Linked DNA regions of Homo sapiens: region 1 is linked to region 2. The links come from fine-mapping of genetic effects on plasma protein levels. Region 2 holds a variant in brackets. A gene starts in the other region. All regions are shown on their reverse strands. Region 1 holds the start of PLXNB3 (plexin B3). Region 2 has its middle 3.9 kb from the start of AK3.

The links. A credible set is the group of variants that fine-mapping cannot tell apart. PIP is the posterior inclusion probability: the model's chance that the variant is causal. The UK Biobank Pharma Proteomics Project read protein levels with antibody pairs (Olink). The fine-mapping took linkage between variants from a reference panel, not from the people measured, so its PIPs are less certain.
Region 1: it holds the start of PLXNB3, and the variant in region 2 is the best candidate, but not a certain one, in a credible set for the plasma level of the PLXNB3 protein (UK Biobank, PIP 0.56).

What each region holds. Positions count from the first base shown.
Region 1 is chrX:153,760,733-153,766,030 of GRCh38, reverse strand. It overlaps PLXNB3 (plexin B3), which reads right to left and starts at 1,782. Exons shown (of 36, transcript NM_005393.3): 1 at 1,727-1,782; 2 at 451-560. The coding sequence starts at 495. PLXNB3-AS1 (PLXNB3 antisense RNA 1) reads left to right here. Exons shown (of 3, transcript NR_199696.1): 2 at 2,182-2,321.
Region 2 is chr9:4,742,429-4,747,749 of GRCh38, reverse strand. No RefSeq gene overlaps it. Among named protein-coding and RNA genes, the nearest start is that of AK3, 3.9 kb to the right of the region's middle. The variant A/G (reference allele first, on the strand shown) is at 3,007.

The DNA.
Region 1 (5,298 bases), not on the chromosome of region 2:
GTCCCAGGAGAAGAGCAGACCAGGAGAGCTGGCTGGGGGAGGGGTCAGGGAAGGGGCAGGGAGGGGTGCCAGACTGGAGATGGTTCCTGGGTGTGCCTGGTGGGACCCCGGGGTGAGCCCCCGAGGGTGAGAGGTGGGAGCAGCCCCTTCTCTGGCCCCTCCTGCCCTCCACAGAGAGATGCTGCCCTGGGTGTGTGGTCACATGCCGACCAGGAGTGGGGCCGCTGCGACTCAGGGCAGAGCAGCGCCTGGAGGAAGGCCCAGGAGCCGCTTATCTCAGGAACACAGGCAGGAAGAGCACGGACACTTCCTGCGGACCCCGGGCTATCTGGGGCAGTGTCTGCCATGAGGGAGGCTGCAGCCTGTATGTCCTGGGCCTGGCCACAGCCATCCTGCCCTACCCTGCCCCTCCCAGGAACATTTCTGGGGACACCGGGCCTGGGCACTTACCATGAAGTGGTGCAGCAGAGGGGTCTCCTGGGCGGCGTGGCACATACGCTCAGTTCAGCTGCCCCAGGGCAGTGGCGATGGGCATGAGATGGCTGCGGGGGGGCATTGTCCTGAGTGGGAGGGAGACAGTCGAGGCTCAGCCCCATTCGAGCTGGCCTGGGGAAGGAGGGGCGGCGGTGGGGGTGGCGCCCAGGGCCTAGCGACCGGGCTCCCTCACAGCTGGCAGCTTTGTCAATAGTGGCCAGGCCAAGGCAGCCCTGCCTCCACCACAACAATGTTCCCTCTGTCCAGAGGCCAGGCCAGGGCCCCACTCGCTAGTGCTGTCACCCCCACTGGGCTGTTCTGGACAGGGGGCTCCTTGCCACTTCCCACCCTCAGGGAGCCACCCCCGGGATCCGGGGACAAAGGGCCGGGGTTTCCTCCAGCCAGCCCTCCCCCTCTGGCCCTGCAACCCCTGTGTCACTAAGCATGCCCCTCCCTGGCTCCCCGGGTCCCTGTGAAGGGCACGGGGTGGACCTTGGAGCCCCTGCAAATGCCGGCTGGTAGCCTTGGGGCCTGGGTGAAGTGCCAGTCCTGGCCCTCAATGCCTGCCTTTGTCCAAAAGATCTTCCTCCACACCCCCAGCCCAGCCCTGCCCCTGGGGACTGGTGAAGTGGTGCCAGGTACAGCATGGTGGCAGCGAGCAGGACCACGGGAGGAGGCTGCTTGAGATGGGCTGAGGCAGAGGGTCCACAGGCCGGGGCTGTCCACCCCACCCTCTGAAGCACCGTCCTGCTGGCCTAGATGCCATCCATGCAGGGGATGGGGAAGGGAGGGGCACCTAGCAGCTAGACCCCCTGTCACCCTCACAGGCCACCCTGGCCAGTGGCACAGGAGCAGGTGCACTGGGGATGGGGTCTCTGCCTCCCCCACAGCACGGCAGCAGTAGGCTCCAGGGCAAGGTGGCAGTGGGCTGCTGTCACCTGGCTGGGCCAGTTGGGTGGCTGTGGGGGTGGGGAGCCAGGCGGGCAGCCTCTCTACCCTGTACCCTGCCCGAGGCTGGCGTTGGCTTTCCCATTTCGGGGAAGAAACATGGTTCCCCACCTCCTAACCCCAGGGCTACCACTTGGGGGACACCGTGCTCCCAGACACCTAGTGCCGTCGTCAGGCTGGGCCGACACCCGAGCGCTCTTGCCTGACCCCAGCCAGTTGGCCCTGAGACCCTGATGCCTTGCCCTGAGGCTGGTAGCCCCTGCACCCCAAGCCCAAGCCCAAGCCTGCCCCAGCTCTTGCCTACCTGGTGGGCCACCGGCGAGGGCCAAGTAGCAGCTGGCGGTGCCAGGAGCACGTCTCACAGAGCCCCAGCCTCCCTCCCCACAATGCAATCGTGCCCAGTCCGACTCATCCCAACAAGCCCGGCCAGGCAGCCCAGCCTCTCTCCGCCCGCCCCTTTGCCCAATGGCACAGGGCAGGATGTTGCTGCCCTCTGCTGGCCGCAGCGGGCATGATGGAGTACTGACCGTGGGCACCTGGCAGGTGAGAGACGGCAGCGCCCTCCTATTGGGTGGGCATTCCATAACCTGGCACGAAGCACCTACTGGATGCCAGGCTTGGGCTTGGCACTGGCACCATCCAGAAACAAACACAGGTTGGGAAACTGAGGCACAGGAGGTTAGGAAACTTGAATAAAGTCACACAGCTAGTATGTGGCAAGGCTGAGTCAATCACAGGGCCCCTTCACTTAACCGTCAGGCTACATGACCTTGAACCATGAACCTTGGCAGGCGTTGGGCAGGAGATGGAGCTGAGGCCTACCCCAGGCCAGGCCTGGACGTGACATGCCCACGTGGCGTTGAGGAAAAACCAGTGTTTCCCACCGACTGGAACACAAGGTTGGTCAAGGGCCGTCTCCCAGGGTGTGGCGGAGGTCAGCAAATCAGGTGGGGTCTTTGTGGCCAGGCTTGAGAACTTGAACTTGTCTCGCCATGGGCAACTGCAAGCTGGTGGCACTGGGGCAGAGAATGTGGGGAGGCCTGGTCCAGTGGTGGTCATGGGCATGGAGAGAGGCGGGCGCGTTCTAGAGGCGCTCTGGGGAGGCAGCATTCTGAAGACTGTGCGTTGGACCCAGGGCAGGAGGCGAAGGCAGGAGAATCCAGGCGACCCTGGGGCTTTTCTGCTGGGGCACTGTTCCCCCTGTGGCAGGGCCATCCACAGAGGGGCTGGCGGAAGTGGGAGGACGGTAAGACTGAGGGGCCCATGAGGGAGGAGGAAATGGTGATGGGGCTGGGGAGGCCTGGGGGTGAGAAGCTTGGCTCAGGTGGCTGGAGCCCTGGGGGCGGCCAGGGTATAGGGCCAGGTGTTGGCCCTGGAGCTCAAAGGCCCAGCAGACTCGGGGTATGGGTGCTTCCCTGAGCAGCTGTGTCATTCTTTCCAACCTGCATGGAGAGAAATGGGGCACAGAGGTGGGTAACTTGCCCAGGGCCATGACCTGACGTCGTTTCTTCAGAGTGCATTCCACAGAGATGGGATTTGAACCTGGGCATTCTGGCACGGGCCACGCTCTGGACCACTGGGCCCCAGATCCACAGCTTCTCACCTGCAGCCGCTGAGGATGTGGAGGCAGACCAGGCAGGCCCGTGGGAAGGACCACCAAAAAGCGAGTGAGCAGCCGGCGAGGGGTCTCTCCCCAACAGGAAGGCCAGGCAGCCTTGAAGGAGCCAGGGAGGGATTTAGAAGCTCCAGGAGGGGAGGCTTGGGGGAGCCAGCTGGCCTCTCTCCCTCTCCCTGTCCTTCCCCCCATGCCTACCCCAACACACACACACATGTCCTTGCTGGCCCCGGATGAGACAGACGCCTGCAATCTGGCATGGGGAATGGGTTTCTCCTTCCTTTCCACAGAAGAAAATAAATCAGGCTGGGCGTCGTGGCTCCCGCCTGTAATCCCAGCACTTTGGGAGCCTAAGGCAGCAGGATCACTTGGGCCCAGGAGTTCTAGACCAGCATGGGCAACATAGTGAGACCCCCATCTCTATAAAAAAATTTAAAAATTAGCCAGGCATGGTGGTGCGAGCCTGTAGTCCCAGCTACTTGGGAGGCTGAAGTGGGAGGATCGCCTGAGCCTGGGAGTTGGTGCCTGCAGTGAGCCGTGATGGTGCCATTGCACTCTAGCCTGGGTGACAGTGCAAGACTCTGTCTTTAAAAAAAAAAGAAAAGAAAGAAAGAAAAAAGAAAATAAATCCATCCACAGGCAGCACCATTTTCATAAATATGTGTGTATATGGCCTGCATATGCACCTTCTACGCTTTCTGAGCAGATAAGAGGCGTGGCTATGGCAGCCCCTGGTCTGAAGCTGGTGTAACCAGAAAGGATCTAGGCTGGTTTGGGGAACCGGAACATCTTATGTCAGGGGAGTCGTGCTGGATTTATCCTGCAATGGCCGGGTCCCCTCACCAAGGGATGGGAAGGCAGCGTCAACTGATCTGGTGTCGTCTCCTTGCTGTGTGCCAGGCTTCTCAATGCTGGAAGGGGACTCGTTGGGTCAGTGGGACGTGGGCTTCACGTTTGCTGGGCTGAAGACGTAGCTCTCCATGCTGGCATCCCAGCGGACACCCCCACTGCCACTGCTGCACCACGTCTTCACGTACACCAGAGAGCAGACTTGAGAGTTTCTGCGCATACAGTGGGTGTGAAATGGTGCCCTGCTGGGTTTTGAATCGGCATTCCTTGACCACCGGCCATATTGCAGCACTTTTCATTTCTTCTGTCAAATGCCCGTGCATGTCTTGGCTTACACTTTGCAGGTGTTCTGTATTTTCCACACCAATCCCTGGGGTGTATGTCTTCGGCCTACCTGTTACTTGTCTTCTCAGTTTGCTGATGTATCATGTGATAAACAGAAAGTCTTAATTTTAATATCATAGCATTTATCAATCTGATTTCTTTTTTTGAGACGGGGTCTCGCTCTGTCGTGCAGGCTGGGGTGCATTGGCGCAATCATGGCTCACTGAAGCCTCCTGGGCTCAAGTGATCCTCCCACCTTAGCCTCCCAAACACCTGGGACTACAGGCAGGCGCCACAGTGCCTGGCTAATTTTGTAATTTTTTTGTAGAGACAGGGTCTCGCTATGTTGCCCAGGCTGGTCTCAAACTCCTGGACTCAAGCGGCCCTCCCGCCTTGGCTTCCCAAAGTGCTGGCCCGTGAGCCTGTGAGCCACTGCGCCTGGCTACCTTCTTTTGAATTCCCATTCAGACTGTGTGTTGCTGGTACATAGAAAAACAATGGATTTCTATGTATCAAGTAACCTTGTAAACTCTCATATTAAGTCTAATAATTATGTTTGGGTTCTCTTTGTGGATTCTTTTTGATTTTCTGCGTACACAATCCTATCATCTGCAAGTAATGACCATTTTGTTTCTTCTATTCCAGTCTTTTTAGCTTTGATTTCTTTTTTTGAGGCAGAGTCTGGCTCTGTCACCCAGGCTGGAGTATAGTGGCACAATCTTGGCTCACTGCAACCTCCGCCTCCCTGGTTCAAGCAGTTCTCCTGCCTCAGCCTCCCAAGAAGCTGGGACTACAGGCACCCACCACCACGCCTGACTAATTTTTGTATCTTTACCAGACACAGGGTTTCACCATGTTGGCCAGGCTGATCTGGAACTCCTGATCCACCTGCCTTGGCCTCCCAAAGTGCTAGGATTACAGGCGTGAGCCACTGTGCCCGGCTGATTTCGTTTCCTTGCTTTACTTCCCTGGACTTGCTTTCTCTTGCTTTTACTTCCTTTGAATGAAAGCATAGGAGGCGCTGGGCATGGTGGCTCACGCCTGTAATCCCAGCACTTTGGGAGGCCGAGGTGGGTGGATCACCTGAG
Region 2 (5,321 bases):
ACATGCCAAAAGGACACAGATGCTAGCTAACACGAAGGAGATTCCATTAGCCAAATCTTAAATGATTTGAACATCAAAATAAATAATAATGACAATGGCTTACAACCAATTTAATAAAATAAGAAACCATATAAATAAATGTAAGATAGTGAGTAAATTAAAAGTTTGATGAAAGATAAGGTATTTACAAAGTCTGAACTTCAACTACCCTCTTACAGAATACTTTTTTTTTTTTTAAAGACAGGGTCTCACACCGTTGCCCAGGCTCTAGTGCAGTGGTACGATCATAGCTCCCTGCAGCCTCCACCTCCTGGGCTCAAGTGATCTTCCCACCTCAGCACCCCACTCAACCCACTCCCTGAGAGGCTAAGAATATAGGCTGGGCCACCATGCCCAGCTAATTTTTTTTGAATTGTTGCCCAGCTGGTCTTAAACTCCTGAGCTCAAGCAATCCTCCCTCCTCAGCCTCCCAAAGTGCTGGGATTATAGGCGTGAGCCACCGTGCCGGGCCTAGAATACTTGTTAATTACAAATGGAAAAAGAGTAATTTCATAGTGGAGAGATCCTGCAGACACCACCTTAACTGGGTGATCAAAGTTAGCATCATCAATAATGCAACACATTAAAATCATATGCCATCTGATAGAACATAACAAAATCACAGCACTACTTCTGTAATATTATCTACCAAAGATGAATAAGCTGAATAGAATCATGAGAGAACATCAGATAAACTCAAAGAGAGGGTGTTCTACAACATAACCTTCCCATAATCTTCAAGAGTGTCAAGGTCATTACACTGGCATAGTATGGGAAGTTAAAAAAGAAAACAAAACAATGAACAAAGAGTGTCAAAGTCATAAAAGTCAAGGAAAGACTACGGAATTACTCCAGATTGAAAGAGAACTGAAAGAGAATAAAGACATGGAAACTGAATGCAATGTGTGATCTTGAAAATCACACAACTAAAATTTACTGTATGATTTCATAACTTCTGTTATAAAGAACATTAGTGGAACATTTGGGGAAAACTGAATAAGGTCTGATTAAATGTTAGTCATGTGATTTTTTTCTTATTTTAAAAGTTATAGTGTGGTTATGCAAAAATGTCATTGTAGGAAACATACATGAAAGTATTCAAGAATGATGGGGCATCTCAAATGGCTCAGAAAAAAAGAATCTTTGTACTGTATTTGCAACTTTTCTATAAGTTTGAGATTATTTCTAGGAAATGAATATTTGTATTCAGAATCCAACTAGCTCTCATCACCTATACCATGCAAGCTTAAGTCATCATCCTCTCTCACTTGCATTATTACTTAAAACCACCATGATCACTTTATTTTCTCCCATGGCTTCTGTGGTTCAGGAACTTAGGAAGGGCTCAGCTGGATAGTTTTGGCTTGAGGTGTCTCACGCAAGTGCAGTTAGATGGCTAGAGTTGGGACACCCAGGGAATAAAGCACTACTCTCTCCATGTCATCTCAGGACGTTCCTAAGTGGTTTCTCCATGTGGGCTAATCTGGACTTCCTTACAGCCTGTTGGCCTCAGGGCAGTCAGATTCCCCATGTGGCAGCTATAGGCTTCCAAAATGAGTGTCCTGGTGAACAAATCAGAAGCTGCTTTGTCTTTTATGACTTAGCCTTGGAAGTCACATAATATCACTTCCACCATGCTCAATTGGTCAAAACAGTCACAGAAGCCTATTCAGTTAAAGGTGGAGGGGACAGGGACCTCACCTCTTGATGGGAGAAGTGTCGAAGATAAGCTCATGGACTGGGAGTGGGCGTCGTGGCCATCTTCAGACAATACCATTTGCCACAGTGGTTTGTTAGGCCCTGTAAGGTCTGGACCCTCACTACCTCCCTGAGCTTTCTTGTTGAATAACTTTCATTTCTTGCTCTCTCTGTTCCAGGCAGAATGGCTTCTTTGGAAACTCAAGCACGCTCCTCCCTCAGGGGCTTTGCGTTTGTTCTTTTTCTCTCTAGAACATTCTTCCCCCAGATATTTTATTTATTTATTTATTTTCGAGACAGAGTCTCACTCTATCACCCAGGCTGGAGTGCAATGGTGCGATCTCGGCTCACTGCAACCTCCATTTCCCGGGTTCAAGTGATTTTCCTGCCACGGCTTCTTGAGTAGTTGGGATTACAGGTGTGCACCACCACGCCTAGCTAATTTTTGTTTGTTTGTTTGTTTGTTTATTGAGACAGAGTCTCACTCTGTCACCCAGGCTGCAGTGCAATGGCGTGATCTTGGCTCACTGCAACCTCTGCCTCCCGGGTTCAAGTGTTCAAGTGATTCTTATGCCTCAGCTTCCCAAGTAGCTGGGACTACAGGCACATGCCATCCCACCCAGCTATTTTTTGTATTTTTAGTAGAGATGGGGGTTTCACCATGTTGGCCAGGCTGGTCTCGAATTCCTGACCTTAAGTGATCCGCTCATCTTGGCTTCCCAAAGTGCTGGGATTACAGGTGTGAGCCAACACATCCGGCCAGGATATTCATTTATTTATTGAGACAGGGTCTTGCTCTGTTGCCCAGGCTGGAGTACAGTGGTGTGATCACAGCTCACTACAGCCTCAACCTTCCAGGCTCAAGCAATCCTCCCACCTCAGCTTCCCAAATAGTTGGGACCACAGGTGCACACCACCACACTGGCTAATGTTCTTCTTCTTCTTCTTTTTTTTTTTTTTTTTTGTAGAGGAGGGGGTGTCATTATGTTGCCTAGGCTGGTCTCAAACTCCTGGACTCTAGTGATCCTCCCGTCTTGGCCTCCCAAAGTGCTGGGATTACAGGTGTGAGCCACCACACCTGGCCTGGAGTGGATTTTTATAGTAGTGGATAACTGATGTACCTTCCTTCTCTTTGTCTTACTACAATCACTACAATCCTAGTAATTATTTCTCAAACATGAACCCTCCTATTCTTTTGTTCTCACCTAGGTAACACATAGTGTGAAGCAACATACAAACACATATACATGTTTCTTGGAAACAAGCTGT[A/G]TTAGTTCCCTAGAGCTACAGTAACAAATTACCACAAACTAGGGGGCTTGAAACAATAGAAAGTTATTCTCTCACAGTTCTAGTGACTACAATTCATAGCCAAGGTAAGGGCAGGGTTATTCTCTCCCAAGGATCCTAGGGGAGAATCAGCTTTGTGTCTTTCTCTTGGCTTCTAGTGTCCCTAGCAATCTTTGGTGTTCCTCGGCTTGTAGCTGTATAAGCCCAATATCTGCTTCCATCGTCACATGGCATTCTCCTGCTATGTTTTCAGGTCATATTGGATTAAGAGCTGACCATCTTCCACTATGACCTGATCTTAACTACTTATGTCTGCAAAGACCCTATGTGTAAGTAAGGTCATCTTCTGAGGTACTGGGGATTAGGACTTCAATATATCTCCTGGGGGAATACAATTCAACCCATGACACATGCCTATCATTTCCCCCTCAGTTGTACATTGTAGAGTTGTACATTGAAGACTTAAACATTTCAGTCTTCAAATGTGACAAAGGCCGGGCATGGTGGCTCATGCCTGTAATCCCAGAACTTTGGCAGGCCAAAGCAGGAGGATCATTTGAGGTCAGGAGTTCAAGACCAGCCTGGCCAAAATGGCAAAACCGCTACTAAAAATACAAAAATTAGCGGGGCATGGTGGTGCAGGCCTGTAGTCCCAGTTACTTGGGAGGCTGAAGCAAGAGAATCTCTTGAATCCAGGAGGCAGAGGTTGCAGTGAGCCAATATCTCGCCACTGCACCAGCCTGGGTGACAGAGAGACTCCGTCTCAAAAACAAACAAACAAAAGTGACAAAACAGTAATTCTTAGTATTTAATCAACAAAACCCTACTGAGTGCCTACTATGTGCAAAGCACTCATCTGGGCTTTATTTGCTTCAAACTAATCTGTATAAACACTTGGTCATTAAATTAGAATTTGAATGAATTTGACCTCAGTGTTTTTCAGTTGGAACAAGGTAGGCAGTGAGGAACAGATCCATACAAAGGCCTGTGAATGGCGAAAAGACTATGCCAGGCACAGTTGCCAGGAGATTTCACAGACTGGCAGTTACTCATTTGTAATCAACAACCTTTTGCAAAGCCAAAGTTGATTGGTGTTTTGCGGGCCTGTTAATATGACCACGACACTCAGCTTTTCATCCCCGCAATGACAGGATGATTCCTCAGCTATTTTTGTTTGTTTGAACATTTTTTTTTTCTAAACCAAATTTCCCCAGGATTTTCTTTCTGGTTTCTTTTGGAGCTGAAACCTCCTATGTTCCCAGCTTTGGAGATTAGAAGTACTTTCTCCACACCTTCAGATTTTCTAGTATTGCATAAGTTGTACTTGTCCAGACTTGCTCATTCTTTAGTTAGTTCTGTTCAAGTTTTCTCATCCTTTCATTTATGTTGTTTACTTCATCCCTTCCTCTGCTTTCCATGGGTTATTTTGATGTCCTTTTCCCAATTACATGAATTCAATGTTTAATTCATTTATTTTCATTCTTTTCATTCTTTCTTGCTTAGTAATGAGTATGTATGAGCCCTGCTGGGCACAGTGGGGTGGCTCAAGCCTGTAATCCCAGCACTTGGAGAGGTCAAGGCGGGCAGATCATTTGAGGTCAGGAGTTTGAGATCAGCCTGGCCAACATGGTGAAATCCCATCTCTACGAAAAATATAAAAATCAGCTGGGCGTGGTGGCGGGTGCCTGTAATTCCAGCTACTCGGGAAGCTGAGGTATAAGAATCACCTGAACCTGGGAAGTAGAGGTTGCAGTGAGCTGAGATCGCATCACAGCACTCCAGCCTGGGCAACAAAACAAGACCCCGTCTCAAAGAAACAAAACGAGGCCGGGCGCGGTGGCTCACATCTGTAATCCCAGCACTTTGGAAGGCCAAGGCGGGTGGATCACCTGACGTCGGGAGTTTCAGACCAGTCTAAGCAACATGAAGGAACCCTGTCTCTGCTAAAAATATAAAATTAGCCGGGTGCGGTAGCGTGTGCCTGTAATCCCAGCTACTCGGGAGGCTGAGGCAGGAGAATCACTTGAACCCGGGAGGCAGAGGTTGCCGTGAGCCGATTGCACTCCAGCCTGGGCAACAAGAGCAAAACTCTGTCTCAAAGAAAAAAAAATGTACAAGGTATGTATTTTCTTTCTTTCTTTTCCACACCAGAAAGTATAAAGGCTAATGCCTTTTCTAAGTACCAGGCTGTCTACCTATTGAAATCCCCCATCCATTCACTCAGCTACGATTCACTGACTGTCTCACCCTGAAGTCATTTCTATCTTCTTTGAAATCAGTTCTGGACCTCTGAGGAG